Homo sapiens: one gene and its partners. The protein of the gene in region 1 purifies or fractionates together with the protein of each later gene. This does not show direct contact. Each region holds a gene or a part of one and is shown in the gene's direction. Other genes may lie near its edges.

Region 1 (2,181 bases):
TGGTCAGTAGTTCAAAGAGCTTTGGTCATGGGGGGAAGTACTTTTCCCTCTCCCATTCTTTCTCTTTTTTTTTTTCTTTTTTGAGACGGAGTCTCGCTCTGTTGCCCAGGCTGGAGTGCAGTGGCACAATCTTGGCTCACTGCAACCTCCGCCTCCCGGATTCAAGCGATTCTCCTGCCTCAGCCTCCCAAGAAGCTGGGACTATAGGTGCATGCCACCATGCCCAGCTAATTTTTTGTATTTTTAGTAGAGATGGGGTTTCACCGTGTTAGCCAGGATGGTCTTGATTTCCTGACATCGTGATCCACTCGACTCGGCCTCCCAAAGTTCTGGGATTACAGGCGTGAGCCATTGTACCCAGCCCCTCTCCCCATTCTTATCACTCCTCCCTGCCCTGTCAGCCCCCCTTTCTGCTTTGCTCATGTCCTCTTACTCCTGCTTTCCTCCTTCTGCCCCCTGTTCCCCAGGCAAGCCAGGAAGCAGACAATGTTCTGATCCTGCAGGACAGGAAGCTGGTAACCGGGCCAGGGAAACGGTATCTGCAGGTGTCCAAGAACCGCTTTGATGGAGATGTAGGTGTCTTCCCGCTTGAGTTCAACAAGAACTCCCTCACCTTCTCCATTCCACCAAAGAACAAGGCCCGGCTCAAGAAGATCAAGGATGACACTGGACCAGTGGCCAAAAAGCCCTCTTCTGGCAAAAAGGGGGCTACGACACAGAACTCTGAGATTTGCTCAGGCCAGGCCCCCACTCCCGACCAGCCAGACACCTCCAAGCGTTCAAAGTGAAGGCCGTGCAGAGCTGGTCACTGAAATGAGCCTGATAGGATAGGCTGGAGCATAAAACTCTGCAAGGGCTCCTCTATCCTGTGGTCCTGAGCTGTGTGCCCTTCTCAGTCTGAGGGGCCTAACCTAGAGCAGGTTTCCATAGTGAGAAAATTCAATGTAGCAGACTACTGAGAAACTACTGTGTTGCTCAGGCTTTGTTTGAGGTCCTGTATATACAGCACTGAAAAGAGAGATAAAGTCCCTGCCTGCATGCATTCTGGCGGAAGAGACAAGCAAGCAATGAACAAATTAGCAGAAAACCTAGTTTTAGTGAAAAATGCTGTAAAGAAAATAGAAATGCGATAGAGTGCTGGCAGGCTAGTGTAGATAAGTGGTCTGAAAAGGTGTCTCTGAGCCGAGGGCATGTGAGCTGGGGCCTAAACAACTAGAAGGAGAGAGCCACGTGAACATCCGGCGAAGGGGACCCAGGCAGAGAGAAAAGGAAATCCAAGCCCTGAGGTAGGAATGAGCAGGTCAGATTCAAGGCAGTGAGGTCAGGCCGCATGAACCTGGAGGGGAATCGGGGACTTCATGCGAAACTCCAGCCTAGGCTTTCAAAGTCAAAGGGTGATACAGTGGGTACCAAGCTCCTCTGCTCCCCACTTTGTAGAGCCTAGCATGAGGTGGCATGTACTAGAATTGGATCCTAGGTGCTTAGCCCTGCAATATCAGGGCCTCACTGGTGGGAGCTGCCTCGGGCTGGGTTGCTTGGTCATAGAGCCATAGAAGGAAGCTGTCAGCCCGGAGTGCCTGCCACCTAGACACTGATGCCATTGTGTGCTGCCTCAAGACTGCTGGAGTCAGGACATTTTATAGAGCCTTTTCCAGTTTTACTAAAAAATTTTTCCATTGCCTTTGTTTCTGTGCTTTTTCTTATTCATCCACCAGGTGTCTCCCCAGTCCGTAGCTGAATTTCCCTTTCGGGATTGGGAATGGACGGGTCCCCTCCCACTGCTTGCAGCCTTTGAGCGGTGGGCTTCCAAGGAAGCAGGGACATTAAAGGGCCTTCACACCCCACCTTCCATTTACATCTCTTCTTGGCCTAGGGAAGACAAGATGATCTGTCCTCATACCTAACTTCCCTGAGGATCTCGAGTGATTCCTGGCACAGGTACTCATCACTGGGCCACATGAGCCCAGTGCCCTGCCTGACTGGCCATTCCTCTGTGATGTGAGCCACTCACCTCTCAAGTGGACTTAGACTCAACATATTCTGTCCACCCCCATCCATCTCCCTCCTGTACCCTCTCCGTGTTTCTCATATGCTAATGCGTGCCAGAACTCCTGGGGACTTGTGAAAAATGCAGAAACTAGGCCCCATTCTCCCCCCATCCTCCACCACGTACATTTCTCA
Region 2 (3,500 bases), on another chromosome or scaffold:
TTATGAAAAAAACCCTGTTTTGGGGTGACTGTCAGTATTTATGAGCATCACCAGGAATAGTAAAATGTATCGATGCAATAAAATATAAATAACAGTCTAGTCATTTAATCAATCCAGTGAGGTCAGGTTATGTTTATAAGGAGAAGTGTGAGAAACCAAGCAGCCTGTGGAAGAAAGGAAAGAGTGGCTCAGGAGCCCCAGAAAATGGGTGAGGAGCTGGTAGGGGAATGCCTGCCTTTCACCGAGGAGCTCTTTGGGTGAGGTTCCAGTTACTGGAGAAATTAGTGGCCTGAAGCCGATGGCCTGCCGGTCCTAGGTCCCCTGCTTTGCCTCTCTAAGGCTTTTTGTCATTGAGTTTTATAAACATCCAGAGCAGCTTTCTTCAGTTAATACAATTTGATGTCTGCACACTGCATAAACAAAACTGTATGATGTGGTATTGTCTTCAGAAAACCTCACCCAGAATTTTCCAAAAATACAACTTTAAAGAACTTCACACAAAACTGCTTCACTCTTCTTCTGTGCTCCTGTTCTCTGTGAGCCTTATTTCATTCTCTCATCTATCGGCCAGGTGAGTGGTTTCATGACCTGGCCAACTGCTTCAAACCTAAGCTCCAAGCTTCAGACCCATGTAAATGTGTCTTTGCAAACCAAAACTTCTGGTGACTGATTTCAATTTTAAAAAAATACCAAAACCTTCTTGGTATATGAAAAATTACCCAGAACCCTAATTTAAAAAAACAGACAAAAATTACATTTCATTTGCTTTTTAATATGTATTTATGATATAACTGGCTGGTGAGACCTAGTTGGACAAACGCTGCTCGTTCGGTTCTGTTTACGGCCATCACCTATCAGCTTTGTCCACTCCTACCCCCACCCCTGCTTCTCATACACAACAAGCACAGGAATAGACCAGTCCGCAGGCAGTCATCCAGATCGCAATTTACGCTGTACTTAACCCTACAGGAGTCATGTCCCTTCTGTCTGTCAGTGAGGGAAATGGCCGTGTACTTGTGAAGGAGCTGCAAATGTGAACACTGAGTGGCAAAGTCCCAGGACTCTGTGTTATTCATGGCCCTGGCCTTTGTCCTTGGCCTCCTGCATATTAACTGGGATCTTTAGGAGAGTCTCTAAAGAAAACCGAGGCCTAGAAAATATGTCTGCAAATTGATGGCATAATACTGAGAGAGACAGAATGTGCAGCGTTATCTCATCAATTTACAATAGCATCATTGCTTCTCTTCGCTCATAATGTGGCTGTGAGGCTTATATTTTTCAGAGTTCTTTCTCATATATGAAGTGCCCTGCAAACCAAAGTTTCCTTCTGCTTGCTTGAAACACTGGCAAGATTTGCTTTTATCTCCAGATTTTATTTTACATTTGCTTTCAGAAAACAAAGTATTATTGTATTCTCATGAATTACTGCAATATCATTTCCAGCAAATGTTTGAGAGATACATTGACCTTGTCTTTCGCAGAAACTGACTGAAACTTAACTGAACATGGTATCAGTTAAAACAGTGTTTCACAAGGAAGAGGAAAAACAAAGAAAAAAATATCGTCAATGGGCAAATAGGTTAGGATATTCTGGATTAAATGCAATTAAATAGTTTTACTCTCTGCTGAACTTTTCAGGGCCATTATTTTTTAGACTAGCTTTTTGTAGTTAAAAAGGGACATTCACCTAGTAAAAAATTCAAAATATAACAAAAATTTGTATGATGAAAGTAAGTCTCTTTATCATTACAAAAGTTCTGATCTCTCGTTTTTAAGCCTTAAATATTTCATATTTTCTCTATTCACTTCTATATATGTTTCAGTATGTATATATTTTCTTTTTTCCTCTTATACATTTGGGACTAAATTATTCATTCTATTCGTACCCTATTTCATATAATAGTATTTCAAGGGTTTTTTCCTTAGGAGCAGATACAGATCTACCTCCATCATTTCAGTAACTTTGTAGATTTCATTGTATGACTGGTCTATAATTGAATCAGTCTCCTATTAAAGCTCAAGCAGATCTTTTGCAACCTTGTGCCACAACAAACACAAATCCATGTACATTTATTTGCACACACACGAGATCTTATACAGTAAGTGGAATTGCTTAGTAAGAGGATTTTTGTGTTTTTAATTGTGTTTGTTTTACCTACTGTCTTCCAAAAGAGGCTGTCTTATTTGCACTTCCACTACTAGGGTATGATAGAGTCTCTTTCCCTGCCTCCTCATTCATGCTTTTAAAATTCTTTAATATGCTGACACGCACTGTGATCCTTGCAGAGTTTAAGTTACAAAATATTTCAAGAACTTAGTAGATCACAGAGTGGTGCTATATGTTTGAGTCATGTTTTGGTTGTTTTTGTTTTGCTTTGTTTTTATGGTAAATGTGATGAAATCTTTGAAAACAGTTTGGAAATTGTTGCATTGAAAGGACAATAAATTATTTGCTTGTAGCTCTGTTGAAAACGGGGGAAAAATCACGCACCCTGAATAAGAAATTTGATAGGAAATAAATATGGGTAGAAAATTATTTTAAATAACAAGTCAAAAAACACTTTGTAAAAATTTTATTACAACAGATCTACATATTAATATTTTCATTACAAAGACGGTCTTGGAAAATGTGGAGAAATCATTTGTATTGGTGCTGTTAGAGTTTACACTTTCCATGCTAACCTGAAAGTCAGTATGTTGGGTTATCTTTTGACTGCTAATCTGCTGGAGAGCCTTAGGCAAAGTCATCTCGTTCTTCGGTTTGCAGCTAGTAATTTTATGGCTTTTCTTTTTTTATTTTTCCAGTATAGATAGAAGGGGCCTCATGCACTAGCCCAAGTTCTCTGAATTAATCTTAGATAAATTAAATACTTTGTAAATATTTTAATGATTATAATTGTAATAAAATTATTATTTTTTCTGTTCCTCAGTGGCGATAAAGTATTTAACACTTATCTGTCTTTGCAGACAAGCATGAAACTAAATTGAAAGGAGTAATATACTTTCAAGCCATTGAAGAAGTCTATTATGATCACCTCAAGAATGCTAATAAGGTAAACATCAGTTTTCTAAATTCCTACAATTTGAATGCATAATTAAGAAGGGAAAAATATTTTTGGAGTCTAAGAAGTTTGAAATTGATGTTCTGATGTAACAGATAGATATGATCAGAATGGTGCTGGAAAAGTAAACATGAAGTAAGTGGGATGGCCGTTCTCTTTGAGGAAAAAAAATATCATAGCAAATTGAGGAAATATTCTGGACATAATGGTTTGGGAAACCCTGCGAAACGACTCTGCCAGGGTTCTAAAAAGAAGCTACCATATAGTTAAGAGGGGGATCGTGAGCAAGTCCTAGTAGGGCTAAGAATAACAGCTACTATTTATTAAACTCCTACTCTCAGCTAGGTACCCTGCTAGAGCTTTACAAACTAGCTGCTGAAATAATTTATGAGTTCTGTCTGAGATTTCCTGTTCAGAAAAATGGTCAATCCTGAAAAA
Region 3 (2,573 bases), on another chromosome or scaffold:
TGATTGTATATTTCTGAAGAAAACTTTGAACATCCCAGTTATATCAGAGAAGCCTTTGTTGTTTAATGGACTTAACTCCATTGATTCTCCAGAAAATGAAACTGCTGATAACAGTTTTTCTCAGGAAGAGGAGCCAGTGGTGGCCGGGGAAGACCTCCCTCCTCCCAGTCCTCAAGAATCTGATGTTCAGCCTGTGCAGCCTGAGGAAGTGTCAGCCAGAGATTTCCTGCAGAGACTTGACTTGCAGATTAAGTTATCAACACAGGCAGCCAAGAAGCTAAAAGAAGAGAGCAGGTAAGAATACCCTGGTACAAATGTCAAAGTCTAAATAAATCACTATTAAGATGTCCTTGCTGGGCCAAATCTTTCTTTTCTCTTTTCTTTGCCTTTTCTTTTCTTTTCTTTCTTTCTGATTTTTTTTCTTTTTTTCTTAATTTCTTTCTTTCTTAATTTCTTCCTTTCTTAATTTCTTTCTTTCTTTCTTTTTTTGCTTTAAAAACTGCATTTTAGTTCTAGAAAGGCATTTTTAGTATATAAACTCTAAACAGAGCTGCTGCCTGATGCACAAGGCTTTATCTGTTGCAGTGTTTTTATCTGTTATTTACTATAAAAAGTTTGCTTCTTTGCTTTAATAGCGTCACTGTCCAGCTAGCACTTCTGGATAGCGGCAAAATAAAAGTGTCTCTCTCACTGACACTTTCAAGAGAAGTAGTGTCATAGAAAATACTTGTAAAATATTGATAGTTGCAAAACTTGTCAAAGACATTGTCTGTTATTTGTTACTGGGTGTTTCCTACATAAGATCTCATGTGAACTTTTTTCTTTGTTTTTTAAATTTGATATTAGGGCAAATCTTTCTCTCTCCTATAGAATTGGTTTCCTTTTTTCTTTATGATTTGATTTCAAAAAAGTACAATCTACTGTGTTTCCTTTTTTGCTCTGGCTATTGGGAAGCTTGCAACTAAAATTGATACCTGTGTTCAACTCCTATAATATTTCTTATGATTAATACATTGGTTTCCTTCTCCTTTCCTTAGTCCTGATTTTTTTATTTCTATTTTATTAATCTTATTGTATATATGCCTTTTGTTGTTAGTACCTTAAATCCTTTTGGGAAAGAGGTAGAATATAGAAAACATAAACAAATATAAATATGAATATAATTTAGTATAGATTTAAAATATATGTAAATATAAGCAAATATAAATACATAAATGAATGACATTATTTATTCTAATAACTGAGATATGAATAAAATGGAGATAGTAAGGTATGTCTTAAGTATTGGCATTTCATACAGTTGTCTAGGCATGCACAATATTCTAAGTTGATATATTCCTTCTTTGGCAAGTGGATATTGTATAATAAGTTGATGTTTTAGTTTTCTGCATACAGTTCTAAACTCTGATTTATGCTGTATTTATTTTCTTTCAGAGATGAAGAAAGTCCCTATGCAACTTCCCTCTATCACAGTTAGGTGATTTGGGGGCATAACTCTAACCAAAATTAAGATATGTTTGGACCATAAAGAATCCAACAACTGAAGATTCAAAAACATCCCTTCTGGATTCCTATAGTGTCCATCTTAAAATCATAACTAGGTAGTTCTACCTGCTGCAGTTGCACTGAAGTGATTAGTTCCCTCTGGCTTTCTATAATTTTAAGTCTTTATTATGGCATGATGGCAAGGTTGTAGCCTAAAGCTCATCACTTTTGTAGGTGGTGTTAGTTTTTAGACTAGCTTTTATAAATACTAATTGACATAAAGCATCAAAGATTATTTATATATTTAGGCTAAAAATAATGTTTATCTCCTTATGCAATCCTGATTATGTGAAAATATGGTTGCTGTTTAAGTGATGCTGAATTTGCTGTGTGTTTATAACTTAAGTGCTATATATATATTTCGATATGTCTTACATATTCTCTATTAATATAAAGAACCAAATTTTGTCTGCTATTTTGTAAAAATAAACTACAAAAGCCTGAATGAGAAAATAAACTATGTTTTCAAACTTGAGTCTCCTTTTTTTTTTTAACAAATGAGAAAATAAAATTGACTTTTAAATTATACATTTAAATGCTGACAGCTTCTTCTTCACTTTAATGGTTTTTATTATTATAAATGCAATTTTGAAAAAAGTATTCATAATCTAAAAGCAAAACAAGTATAATTACTAGTAATCTTGGCATTTTCATTGACCTAATGTGATTCAGATATGGTGAAAACATGGAATAAATCAAAAGAACAAATAAATAATACCATAATCTGACATTATATTGCAGAATTCTAGTATAGATTTCATTGCTAAGTTACTTTATAAGTGTTTGGTAGTCCTGTACTTATTTGAATTGATTTTTATTCCCATAATTTAATTGGTCTTTATTATATGTATAGATTACAGTAGGACACTTTAAGCAATATATCATTTATAATTAAATATTGTTTTGGTCTCAATTTCTGTTCAACTCTTAGATTAAATAAATCTTTAGGCTTCCACAAAAATTCCTCATATCTACCCCATCCCAGCATAGCAAAAATACTTTCACTTTCTTCTTTTTGTTATTTTTTT
Region 4 (3,500 bases), on another chromosome or scaffold:
AACCCATCTCTACTAAAAAATACAAAAAATTAGCCGGGCATGTTGGCATGCCCCTGTAGTCGCAGCTACTCAGGAGGCTAAGGCAGGGGAATCACTTGAACCTGGGAGATGGAAGTTGCAGTGAGCTGAGATCACGCCACTGCACTCCAGCCTGGCGACAGAGCAAGACTCCATCTCAAAAAAAAAAAAAAAAAAAAAAGAAATGGGGATCACTGGGCGCGGTGGCTCATGCCTGTAATCCCAGCACTTTGGGAGGCCAAGAGAGCCAGATCACGAGGTCAGGAGTTCGAGACCAGCCTGGCCAATGTGGTGAAACCCCGTCTTTACTAAAAATACAAAAATTAGCCAGGTGTAGTGGTGCACGCCTGTAATCCCAGCTACTCGGGAGGCTGAGGCAGGAGAATCACTTGAACCCAGGAGGTGGAGGTTGCAGTGAGCCAAGATTGCGCTACTGCACTCCAGGCTGGGTGACAGAGCAAGACTCTGTCTCACCAAAAAAAAAAAAAAAAAAAAAAAGAAGTGGGGATCACCACTCTTCCAGTAGGTTGCCAGATGCAGAGAGTAAACAGGGAACAGTATGCTCACGAGCTTGCCATCTAGCGGGAAACATGTCAACTAAACAACCTGTTAAAGGAAGTTTATTGTTTGAATTTTGTTTGTTTTGAGACGGAATCTCACTCTGTTGCCCAGGCTGGAGTGCAGTGGCACAGTCTTGGCTCACTGCAACCTCCGTCTCCCAGGTTCAAGCAAGTCTCCTGCCTCCGCCTCCTGAGTAACTGGGACTACAAGCGCGTACCACCACGCCTGGCTAATTTTTGGGTTTTTTTGTTTGTTTGTTTGTTTTTTGAGACAGTCTCACTCTGTTGCCCAGGCTGGAGTGCAATGGCGCGATCTCGGTTCTCTGCAACCTCCCCGTCCCGTGTTCAAGCAATTCTCCTGCCTCAGCCTCCCAAGTAGCTGGGATTACAGGTGCCCGCCAACATGCCCTGCTAATTTTTTGTATTTTTAGTAGAGACGGGTTTTCGCCATATTGGCCAGGCTGGTCTCAAACTCCTGACCTCAGGTGATCCACCCACCTCAGCCTCCCAAAGTGTTGGGATTGCAGGCATAAGCCACCACACCCGATCTGAATTTTAAAATTAATTTTAAAAGCCACAATTTTAGAAGTTGAATAAGGAATGGGAGGGTGTCTTAAATTTGTTTAAAAAGCAATGGGCTTGTTTTGCCTCCAAAGAATGTCTCAGAGTGGCTCATCTGTGGTCCTTTAGTAGACCACCTGAGGCCCTGGAGCTTCTGACCTCATCTCTCTGGGAAAGTAGGTGCCAGGACCTGGGTTTCCAGCTTTCAGCTCCAGCAGAGGTGGCAAGCTTGCCTCTCTCCTAAGGTCCCTGGTAAAGAACAGTACCGTTCTGACTGCTTTTGACAAGGCGTCAAGCTCTTGGAGGGGGTGTCACAGGGGCTACTGGCAACTGCTTTGCACTCAGAATGGTCCACAGACCTACAGAAGCGACTCACTGTTCTAGATGTTATCAAGCATCTGTTGACAGTTCTGAGAACTGGAGCAGAAACTTCGCTCTTCCCAGGTTGATTGTCTGTGGTCTCTGAAAGATAGAGAGGCAGGCAGACAGGCAGGTGAGTAGGTATTGATTTATATATTAGATGTTTCGGCCATGGTACCTTCTCTGAATTGCTGATCCTAGTGAGCTCAAGACACAGTTTGTCACTTTAGTATATAGAATACTCCAGGAGCACATGGACGCTTTTTAGAAGTCAGGCTGAGACCCCACGGGCCCGCCATCACCCAGCAAGTCTAGGTTAGACTATGAGATCCTATATTTTTCTCGAGTGGTCCTTAGAACCCCCTGATGCTTAACAGGGAGGCCCCGTGGGTGGTCAGAGAATGCTATCTGTTACTGACCCTCTTCATCTGTGTGCAGGAACAGTTTCTGGTCCCAGATCACACGATCAAAGACATCAGTGGTGCTTCTTTTGCCGGGTTCTACTACATCTGCTTTCAGAAGTCAGCAGCCTCCATAGAGGGCTACTACTACCATAGGAGTTCAGAATGGTGAGGACCTCTGAGGACAGAGGCCACGGGGAGGGCTTGCTGCCCAGCTGGCTCTCCCTTGGCTCATCAAACCCAAAAGCAACATCTTAGCCTGTCTCTGTATAGATTCTGTGCTTTATTTGGATGCTGAGAGCTTATTTCAGTGATCTCAGTTGCTCACAATAAGGCCTTATCCCTATGCACAGAGCAGAGTAAATGAGATGAAAATGAATTATAGGTGAAAGAACTCATTTCTAAGCACTTTTAAGCAATACTGTATTTTTGGCAATGTTTATCTCAATCTTGCTGGTTTTTATTTAATCCTTGCAAATTGAATTAGTAACTAAAATGTGAATTGATCCAGTACTGGACAATGTGAATTTTGCTGTCAGCAGCTTTTTAAATTTTGTGGCTGCATTCCTTAGAGTTGGTCCGACATGCACTTGATTTAAGGCTCATGACCTGGGGGCCTGTGAGTGGACAGTCCTGTCCAGTGTGTCACCAATAGTAAAGGACTGAACTCTGCCTGAATGCTAACTTTTGCCACCTTTTGAGGGATTCTCCTGCCTCCTTGCTGCTTTTTAAGCACCTTGCTGTCCCCGGAGGGCAAACCATGTGATAAAATGCCTGATTTCCTCTCTGAAGGTAAAAATTCTTTCTTTCCAGTATTTAACACTTTGTTATATGTGAAGTGATCCTACCCTAGATTCCTTGTTCAGTGGTAACGAAATTATATCTGCAAGTAAATGCCAGCCCTGTAGCCACGATTTTTAGGCTTTCAGTAATGGTTTTCACGCAAGTTTGTAAAACTTTTATAATCCTTTTTAAAAATAACAGCTGGCCGGGCACAGTGGCTCACGCATGTAATCCCAGCACTTTGGGAGGCCGAGGCGGGTGGATCACGAGGTCAGGAGATCGAGACCATCCTGGCTAACACGGTGAAACCCCGTCTCTACTAAAAAACAAAAAATTAGCCAGGCATGGTGACAGGCACCTGTAGTCCCAGCTACTCGGGAGTCTGAGGCAGGAGAATGGCGTGAACCTGGGAGGTGGAGCTTGCAGGGAGCTGAGATCGGGCCATTGCACTCCAGCCTGGGCGACAGAGCGAGACACCATCTCAAAAATAAATAAATAAATAAATAAATAAATAAATAAATAAATAAATAACAGCTTTGGTCCGGGCACAGTAGCTCACGCCTGTAATCCCAGCACTTTGGGAGGCCGAGGTGGGCAGATCACGAGGTCAGGAGTTCGACACCAGCCTGGCCAATATGGTGAAACCCCGTCTCTATTAAAAATACAAAAATTAGCCAGGCGTGCTGGTACGCACCTGTAGTTCCAGCTACTCAGGAGGCTGAGGCAGGAGAATCACTTGAACCTCGGAGGCGGAGGTTGCGGTGGGCCGAGATTGCACCACTGCACTCCAGCCTGGGCGACAGAGTGAGACTGCATC
Region 5 (3,500 bases), on another chromosome or scaffold:
AGTGTCTCTGGGAATGAAATAAGTGGGCAGCCTACTAGAGTATTATTTCATGTATTTTTATATGTGATAGAAAGTTCTAGGCCCGGTAGCCAAAACCTGGCAATTGATAGTCATGGCTTCTCATTCAGTTTCCAGACCCTAAGTCAATTCACAGACCCAGAATCCCTGGGTGGCCGGGTCCCCTTGAGGAAGGAGCCTGCATCATTGCCATAAATACTTATTGTAAATCTTCCTCCAAACCTTCCTCCAAAGGGACCTGTGACCATTTACCAAAATAATAGGGAAATGGACATACCCAGACAGTTCTGGAGTTACTTGGCACTAACTCTGAACTGATGCTGTTTCCTGGGGATCTAAAATGCCACTCTGGCTCATAAGTCAAAGTGGGGCTTGTGATGGTCAGGGATAGAGTCTTAGCTGTAGTCTGACTCTCAGTAGATTTGCTTGGTCCATGCCCACCCCGAAGTTATTTTCTGAGCTCCTGAATAAACAATTAGAGTAAGCACACTTGGTAATTATCCATTTTCTTCTCTCTTCTTCCCATTTTTGTTTTATATGCAAGTTTTTGGAAGTCGACTTTATAGTCTTTAGGTGACAGAATGTTCCATGGAACTGTGATCGGTATTTAAGTCCTAATAAATATAGTCCATGACGACTCCTGGGCCTATTAGTCTCCTTGTTTTGGGGAGTGAGTGAGAACTTACAAGGATGATAGCTGCATCTTTTTAGATAGAAATACGCAGTTGTGTTGTTGTACAGGACTTCAGTGGTGTGCAGGAGGATTCATATGGAAGCTAAGTAGTCAAAGAGATGGGCTTTTCTGGTTATCAATTATTGCTTTTCTGTGTCCAATCACCCTTCTTGCCTGCCTGGTGAAAATGGATCTGGGCCCTTTAAATTTTCTCCCTGTCCAGGCAGCAAGCTGGGCTTTGCCAGTAGAGGGCGCCGAGGAGCCTCTGCAGCAGGGACCTTCTGCTTCCTGGTTGCCACGTGCTCACAGGGCCTGCTCCTGCAGCACGTGCCGCTCAGTGCTGGCTGCTGCCGTGCTCAGCAGAGGCCAGCAGCACCTTATTTTAGGCAGTTTTGTAGTGGGTGCCTCTGGTGAGACACCTCCTGTGAGCAGCTTTTGTGGCACCCTGCGGGGCAGATTTCTGGTAAGTTCTACAGGTTGGCTTTCTTGCAAGTTCTGCTGGTGTGCACCAGACCAACTTTTTTTCTCCCCCAATGTAGTGAGGCACAGCCATACCCTCTTCAGCAAGGCCTGGATATCAGCCCTCAGGGGTGTTTGTGGGAGGATGCTTGTTTCTGGGTGGAGGCTCCTCCTTGGGCACTCTGTCAGCTCAGGTTGAAGAACTGTTCTTTAGGGGCTCTGCCATAACGCTGGAGTAGAAGCCTCTTCCTTGAGGGCTGGATGTCAGCCCTAGAGAAGGTGCGTTTGCTTGATACTCTAGCTCAGCACTGGGTGGGGTGGGGGACTTTTGCTTCTGAGGGTCTCTTTCAGCCCTGGGGGGCAGCAGCTGCTCCTTTTGTCTCCTAAACCTATATTCTTCAGAGTTCCCTTTACTTTCTAGCCAGTTTCTTGTTAATTCCACCTCCCATTATGGTTAATAATCCTTTATATGAAACTTACCTATTCAAATGACTGCGCAGCTTCCCCCTCCTAATAGGATGCAGAGTGATGCCCATTGTGCATACTGGCCACAGTTTGTCCACAGTTTTCCTGTGGACATTTCCAATTTGGGGCTATTATGAATAATCTGTGATGTGTATTCTTGAGTGGATGGGCTTTTTTGTGTTATGCGTTTTCATATCTCTTGGATAAATACCTCGAATGAGGTTCCTTTGGGAAGGCCAGGCCACAGGGCTTTCAATTTGTCTAGAGGGTGCTGAGGAGCTGCTGGAAGTTTTGTGGGTCTATTTTAAGTAACACTGATGGATTCGATGTGGGTCTTAGAAGGAGTGAATGGGAGGGGAGATGCCAGTCTTCAATTCCCCAGATGAGGGTGGCAGCTCAAACTGGTGACTTGGTGTGGGACTTTGCTCCATTGTCTTTTTCCTAAACTGTGAAATGGGTTTTTCACAGGCGTGCATAGGATCGTTGGCAGGACTGAGTGGGATGAAGCATGAGGGGCACTTGGCATGGGGCTGGCATGGAGCAGATGCACAGTGGTTGCAGCCAACAGGACTGCCATTTTTAGGTGTTTCAGGCAGGATGTCCTAGCTTCCCCCTGGTGCTAGCCATTATGTGTTCACAGTCCAAGAGCCCAGGGGGGTGGCAAAGGGTCTTGGTGCCCTGCTTAGAGACAACTCTGGACCTAGAAGGTGGGGCACAGCTGCCCGTTGCTGTGCAGTGCTGGGCACTTTCTGATGCCTTCTTGTGGCATCCCTCAGAGGAGTGGGTGGACAAGGTGGCCTTGGGTTCTGGGCACTTTGCCCAGCCCCCTGACAATCACCTCAGCTGGCATCTTGCCTGTCCAAGCCCCGAGCTGCTGTGCCCCAGCAAGTCAAGCGGCCATGATTAGTCAAATAAAATTTCCATCTGTTGAAGAATTTACGAGAGTTATTACTGGCTATAAAACCGATCTGAGGAGAAAGATGGATCCGAGGGGGTAAGTGCCTCTAATTATGTGCGGCAGTGACGTTTAAATAAGGTAGCACAAGTCCTTATTGGAGGGAGCCAGGTCCCTATCCCTCTCTGGGCCCAGAATGTGGCCAGACTGGTGGGGGTGGGTGCTTCACTGCAGAGGGAGGAAAGAGGAGCTACCCTATGCAAACTCGGGGACAGGGGTCATTGCGGCTTAATTTTTTTTTTTTTTTTTTTTTGGTAGAGACAAGGTCTTGCTATGTTGCCCAGGCTGGTCTCAAACTCCTGGGCTCAAGCAGCCCTCCCGGCCTCCCAAAGTGCTGGGATTACAGGTGTGAGCCACTGTGCTTGGCCACTGTGGCATTTAGAAAGATCTTAGATGCCAAAGGGCCTAGCGCAGTGCCTGGCATGCAGCAGTGACTTAATAAATGCATGTTTCTGCTTTACCTGCTTCCCTCCTACCTCCGGGGACTGAGCTGGGCCGCTTACAGGATGCAGGAAGTGGTCTCCCTGGGCCAGGCTCTTGTTGGCACAGACTCTGTGTGATCCGCCCAGGTAATCTTGCTGGGTCTTCATAGCTTCGACTTTAAAGTGGGACAATTAATTACCGAAGGAACACGGGGAAGGCAGGCTTTTGGGTATGTGGGCCCAAACTTGTTCTGTTTTTTTTTTGGGACTGAGTCTCGCTGTTTCACCTAGGCTGGAGTGCAGTGGTGTGATCTTAGCTCACTGTAACCTCTGCCTCTTGGGTTCAAGTGATTCTCCTGCCTCAGCCTCCCAAGTAGCTGGGATTACAGGCACCCACCACCACGCCCAGCTAATTTTTGTATTTTTAGTAGAGACGGGGTTTCACCATGTTGGCCAGGCTTGTCTCGAACTCCCGACCTCAGGTGGTCCGCCCTCCTCGGCCTCTCAA
Region 6 (2,319 bases), on another chromosome or scaffold:
CCACAAACAACTCTGTTTTCCTGCTGAGTCACTTTAAGTTATAATCAGCCTGCTCTTTTTGCTTTCTTTAAATTTCCACAAAACACCTCCTGTGTATAAAACAAAATGGGAAAGAAGGAAGGGCATGTGTGAGCTTAAAAATTAACTTAAAATTACTAGAATTTGCCTTCAAATAAGTATGTGAGGTTAGCTTAATGACCAGGCATGATTATCCTTGAAAAATGTCTTTCCCCTTGCCCACCCCAAATCGACTTGACAAAGGACAGGGTAAGACTCCATGAGGGAGGTTCCATGTCCAGCCACAGTGGAGAAGAGTGGGCTGGCAGAGCCCAGGGAGTCAGTCCAGGACAACAGAGTCAAAGCCAGCCTGGCCCCTGCTGTCAAAATTTATCCACCCAGTCTGCCCCCTCCTTCCTGTCTGAGAGCCCTGCCATGTTGAGAGTTAAGAAGGGATGAAGTTCTGGATTCTGGGCTGCACCTTATCAAAGCCAATTGAGTCTGGTGTAAAAATATTCAGAAACTGTACCCGCTTCTTGAGTAGAGAGAGAGCCATATTCAGGAACAACAGAAGCCAGGGCCAGGATCCTAGTCCAGTGTTCTTCCCACCAGACCACTCACCTCCAGCCGTTTTTTCCTGTAAGGTTGAGATTTTAAAATGACGATATGTGTTCCCAGGATTCTGGAAGTGTATCCCACCCAGACAGTGTGGGGAAGCAGTAGTTAGATAATCCAAGATAAAACTGGCTTTGGGTCCTAGCGCATCTGGTGTCTGGCAGCATTCCTGCCCAGTGCATTAACTGAAACAGGAAGGTGGCGTGGCTTTCTGGGCACATACAGCAGGGAAGAAGCATGACTATACAGTAGAAAGAGCCCTGGACTTAGGGCCAGGCTGCCTTGGTTGTGAGTCCTGAATGCTGCCACTGTGGTGTAGCTGAGCAAGTTGTTCATCTCTAAGCCTCAGTTACCTCATCTGTACAGTGGGGGTGAGAACAGTCAGGGTCATAGGTTGTTAACAGTTAAGGATTGAATCAACATAATGTATGTGAAAGGGCTTAGTCCATGATTGGGTGCTTAATAAATGCCCGTGTTGCTGGGGTGAGCCAAAGGGATGAAGTTGGCAGTGCTTGCTCTGTCGTGGAGCAGTCCCCACGTGGGAAGGCCAGCGGGAAACCAGGCCTGCTGAAGTCTCCAGCGCTGGAAGCCTCACGGGGGTTAGGAAGGAGCCTTGGGAGCAGCTCCTCAGAGCACAGTTGTACCTCAATTGTGGATTTTAGATGTTTCTGCTTCTCAATGTTCTCTCTTTTTTCCTGCCTGCTTGCCTGCCTTTTGGACCTCTTGCTGTCTAGGGTGGCAGATGAAGCTTTCTACAAACAACCCTTCGCTGACGTGATTGGTTATGTGTATGTTGCAAAACTAATTCCTTTTTCTACATCTGATTCTTTCTACTTTTGTTTAGAGTTAATGCTCCTTTTATGTCACAAGTTGCTTTGCTTTTTAAATTATTTCAAATTGGCACTTTGGGGGCTGCCTAAGAATTGATAAGCGGGGTATGATCTGTTGATGAATCTTCCAGATTTGTGACTCCCTGCATCCTCTGATGGCCATTTTTCATATTTGGGGTTTTGGAGGGAAGAAAGCTAACTCGCTTTCAAAATGTGTCATTTGCGATCTTATCTGGGAACGGTTTGAGGCTCGGGGGAACTCTGCTCTCTTGCTCTTGGCTGCCATCACTGCTGCCATGCCCTGTTGCCTGCCTGCCTCAGGTGGGAAGGAGGTTTCCCCACCTGGGAGCAGGTGGCAGTCCCAGGAGGTTAGGAGCCAGTGAGCAGCAGCACCTTGCATTGCCAAAATCAGAGCTGTGGGGCAGCATTTTCCATACTTGGTTCATTCAAACAATGTGGGGTCGTTTGCCTCTCCCTCAGGCAGAAGAGTCCAGAGCAGAGGGGGTTGTCTCCAGTGGGTGTCTATAATTGTTCCTCTGTGGTCTTGCATGTCAGAAATTGCTATTTAGTGGTCAGCTTCTGATGTCCTGTCTCCTAGCACAGGGAAGCCCCCAGCTTTGAGATCAGGATAGTCAAAGTGTCTTGATACGGGCCACTTGGGCTTCTCCCCCTGACCCCCCCAAAAGAAACCTGCATCTTCTCTGGAGAAGGTGTTTTTCTTATTCTTTTTTTTTTCTTTTTTTCTTTTTTCTTTTTTTTAAGGATTTCTTTTATCAAAGCAGTATTGCTGAAGAGTTGGAAACAGTTCTCATTGTCTCCTCCTTAAAAATTAGGGCTGGCTTTACATGAGAAGTAAGGGTGGAATGGAAGAGGAGAG
Region 7 (3,500 bases), on another chromosome or scaffold:
CTCCTGCCTCAGCCTCCTGAGTAGCTGGGCTTACAGGCATGTGCCACCACACCAGGCTAATTTTGTATTTTTAGTAGAGATGGGGTTTCTCCATGTTGGTCAGGCTGGTCTCAAACTCCTGACCTCAGGTGATTCGCCTGCCTTGGCCTCCCAAAGTGCTGGGATTACAGGTGTGGGCCACCGCACCCAGCCTAATTTTTTAAATTATTTGTAGAGATGAGGTCTTGCTATGTTGCCCAGGCTGGTCTCTAGTGATCCTCCCACCTTGGCCTCTCAAACTGCTGGGACTACAGGCATGAGCTACTGCACCCGGCCATCTTTCATTTTTATCCCCATCTAGTGCGTTTACAGACAGGAAAGTTAAATTTATGGGAGGGCTTCAAAGCTCCTATTTTCACCTTCCACCGTCTGATAGAAGCACATATATTTAGTGTGCTTGAACTAGTGTGAATGAGAATAGCCCCTTAAAACAAGCACCTTGAAAATAATGTTGACTAAAATGGTGGTGCTGGAGTCTCATACTGCCACAGAAACTGAAGTGCACTTCTTAAATTTGTAGGGAGGAAAATGGATTGTTTTCTCCTAGTCTTTATCATAGATAACAGCTGAGTTAGTTATCTAGGTAGAGAGCAGAGACCAACTTCAGAAGGGAAGTGTTTACACTTAGAGACCTGGATTCTTTTTTTCTTTTTGTATTTTTTGAGAGATGAGGTCTGGCTATGTTGGAGATCTGGATTCTTTCAACTGGTTTTAACATTTCAGTTTTAGTCGATCTTGCTGTGTCATGTTAGATTGGTGAACTATAGGTGTTGACTGGAAGTCTAAAGAAAGGTGGGCATCTATTCCCAGCATTTTACATGTGGTAAACATGGCTGTTGAGCTGATCTGGAAACATCAGATGTTAATTAATTAATTTATTTATTTGCCACACAGTCTCCTTTATCATCCAGGCTGGAGTGCATTGACTCAATCTCGGCTCATTGCAACCTCTACTTTCTGGGTTCAAGTGATTCTCCTGCCTCAGCCTCCCGAGTAGCTGGGATTACAGGCATACGCCACCACGCCTGGCTAATTTTTGTATTTTTAGTAGAGATGGGGTTTCGCCATGTTGGCCAGGCTGGTTTCGAACTCCTGACCTCAGGTGATTCACCTGCGTCAGTCTCCCAAAGTGCTAAGATTACAGGCATGAGCCATGGTGCCCAGCAAGGAAACATCAGTTTTAGAAAGGTCTCAGGTCATGTATACCTGTGGTATCCTGCTTCAGTTGACCACTGTCAGATGGCAAGAGTATGAATAGCTCCTCATGGTCTCTTTATGGAATCCCTGAAAGCCTTCCCATGGCTGGGATGCAGCCACATGTTAGTATGGGCCAGGTGGGTTTTGAGGAGGCCAAAGGCAGTTACACAGGGCAGGCAGACATCAACTGGCTCATTTCCCTTTTTTTGTAGATTTTTTTTTTTTTTTTTGAGGCAGGGTCTCGCTCTGTTGCTCAGGCTGGAGTGCAATGGCATGATCACAGCTCACCGCCACCTCAACTTCCTGGGCTCAGTCAATCCTCCCACCTCAGCTTCCTGAGTAGCTGGGACTATAGGTGTGTGCCATCATGCTTGGCTCATTTTCTTATTTTTTGTAGAGATGGGGTCTCACAATGTTTCCTAGGCTGGTCTTGAATTCCTGGGCTCAAGTATTTCTTCCACCTCAGCCTTCCAAAGTGCTGGGATTATAGTCATGAGCCACCATGCCCAGCTGATTTTTTTTTTAACTATTTTATAGAGATGGGATCTTGCTGTGTTGTCTAGGCTGGTCTCCAACTCCTAGCCTCAAGTGATCCTCCTGCCTCAAAGTGATCCAAAGTGCTGGGATTGCAGGCAGGAGCCACCATTGTCAGCCTCCCATGGATTTTGGAGGTGTGTTTTTTATCCTGGTTTAGTCCATGACCCAAGCATTAACTGGTTGTCTAGCTTTCCTGTGTTACCTAGTTTGATCCTCACAGCATCTCTGGCAAGTGGCTAGAGCAGGTGATCATCTACCTTCCCATTTTGTGAGTGAGCCCTGAGTCCCTGGGATGTTTGGTGGCCTACCCTGGCTGCAGGGCTTAGGGTGTGCAGTGGAGTAGCCTGACTTATCAGATGTCCTCGCCTGATCCTAGACACACATGTCCATGCTGCTGCTGCCTTTCCCCATTGTAGCTGTTGCATTTCTTCCCTGGGTAGAGTGAAGGAATGTTCTGTTGGATTCCTACCAGATTGCAATGTTAGGGGACAGAGCTGAAAGGTGCATGGTGCTGTGTAGGGCCAGAGAATTGTGGCATGCTCTGGGCCGGGCTTGATCAACTTACTGTTCCATTTAATCTGTAAACTTGCTTTTCTGTAGATTTGAGTACACCTCCTTTGTAAAAGGTATTTATAAACCCAGTTGTTAGTGTCATTGTTCTCCAGAACGTCCTTTGTTTTGACAATATCTTTTGGAGAAGAACACACTAAGCTAGTCTAATAAGGAAAGTTTCATGTCAAGATTTCACAGAATATTTATATATACCTACTATGTTCCAGGCCCTATACTAGGTATAGGGAGAACAGATGTAAAGCCAGCACAGATCAGCTTTGTCCTCAGGAAGCCTGTGGCCCATTCAGTAGAGAGTGGACTGAAAGTCTTTCTGCAAGAGGAGGCAGAGCCTGGGAACAGTTGGGAGGAATGAGTAGGAGTTCCCCAGTAGGCGAGACCTGTTAGACCTATGAGTCTGATGGGTAACTAGCTTGACTTCTGGGTGCTAGGCTTTCTGGGCACTCCTCAAGTATAAGAGAGCTCTGTGGAGTAGGAGGGGCTGTGTTTGAGCTAAGAGCTTGGCACAGACTGATGGGCTTCAACTGCATTTTGCCGAGTCACCAGAGCTGTGAACTCGGGGAGCGGGTCTGGTGGGGTGAGGAGACATCAGAGCACTGCCAGTGGTGCCAGGAGATAAGGGGCATCCAGGTCTGTCTTTCTAGGAAGCGAAGGAGGGCCTGAAGCTGAGGGTCCCTGGGGAGGAGCAATGTCTGCAGGCAGAGTTCATGGACCTGTGGGTGTCCCTGGCTCTTAGTGATGACACATGGAGGGTGTGGCTGGCTAGGCTGACAGATGCTCCAGTGTGACCCTCAAAATAGACTGTAACATCATCCCAGCGGCGGAGGCCTCCTGACATGTGATGGTTGCTTTACCCAAGAGTAGTAGGCCTGGGCTAGAGCACTGGAAGGCATGGAGAGGGGTGGGGGCATTTTCCTCTGTAGCCAGTGTCTGGGCCCAGGCCCAGAGCAGGGGTCTCTGACCACAGCCAGCCTTCCCTTGCTCCTGCAGCTGACTTCCTTTGGCCAGGCAGCAGTGCACTCATTCATTCATTCCAGACACCAGGGCGCAGTACCCATTGTTTTTTTTTTTTGGTTGTTGTTGTTGTTGTTGTTTTTGAAACAGAGTCTCGCTCTGTTGCCAGGCTGGAGTGCAGTGGCACAATCTTGGCTCACTGC

Evidence for each region.
Region 2: the proteins of TWNK (region 1) and PHLDB2 purify together in Homo sapiens (affinity purification with mass spectrometry; one large-scale study listed by BioGRID and IntAct). This does not show direct contact.
Region 3: the proteins of TWNK (region 1) and LYSMD2 purify together in Homo sapiens (affinity purification with mass spectrometry; one large-scale study listed by BioGRID and IntAct). This does not show direct contact.
Region 4: the proteins of TWNK (region 1) and GID4 purify together in Homo sapiens (co-immunoprecipitation; one large-scale study listed by IntAct). This does not show direct contact.
Region 5: the proteins of TWNK (region 1) and ACTL8 purify together in Homo sapiens (affinity purification with mass spectrometry; one large-scale study listed by BioGRID and IntAct). This does not show direct contact.
Region 6: the proteins of TWNK (region 1) and CLTA purify together in Homo sapiens (affinity purification with mass spectrometry; one large-scale study listed by BioGRID and IntAct). This does not show direct contact.
Region 7: the proteins of TWNK (region 1) and RANBP10 purify together in Homo sapiens (co-immunoprecipitation; one large-scale study listed by IntAct). This does not show direct contact.

Annotation. Positions count from the first base shown.
Region 1 is NC_000010.11:100,992,723-100,994,903, forward strand, and holds the end of TWNK (twinkle mtDNA helicase), read left to right. Parts: intron 1-467; coding exon 468-788; 3' UTR 789-1,681; downstream 1,682-2,181.
Region 2 is NC_000003.12:111,970,765-111,974,264, forward strand, and holds part of PHLDB2 (pleckstrin homology-like domain family B member 2), read left to right. Parts: intron 1-2,967; coding exon 2,968-3,053; intron 3,054-3,500. UniProt on the Homo sapiens protein: Seems to be involved in the assembly of the postsynaptic apparatus. May play a role in acetyl-choline receptor (AChR) aggregation in the postsynaptic membrane.
Region 3 is NC_000015.10:51,722,511-51,725,083, reverse strand, and holds the end of LYSMD2 (lysM and putative peptidoglycan-binding domain-containing protein 2), read left to right. Parts: coding exon 1-294; intron 295-1,434; coding exon 1,435-1,477; 3' UTR 1,478-2,073; downstream 2,074-2,573.
Region 4 is NC_000017.11:18,059,908-18,063,407, forward strand, and holds part of GID4 (glucose-induced degradation protein 4 homolog), read left to right. Parts: intron 1-1,937; coding exon 1,938-2,068; intron 2,069-3,500.
Region 5 is NC_000001.11:17,758,333-17,761,832, forward strand, and holds part of ACTL8 (actin-like protein 8), read left to right. Parts: intron 1-996; exon of another isoform or gene 997-1,154; intron 1,155-3,500.
Region 6 is NC_000009.12:36,207,921-36,210,239, forward strand, and holds part of CLTA (clathrin light chain A), read left to right. Parts: exon of another isoform or gene 1-634; intron 635-1,346; coding exon of another isoform or gene 1,347-1,400; intron 1,401-2,319. UniProt on the Homo sapiens protein: Clathrin is the major protein of the polyhedral coat of coated pits and vesicles.
Region 7 is NC_000016.10:67,800,061-67,803,560, reverse strand, and holds part of RANBP10 (ran-binding protein 10), read left to right. Parts: intron 1-3,500. UniProt on the Homo sapiens protein: May act as an adapter protein to couple membrane receptors to intracellular signaling pathways.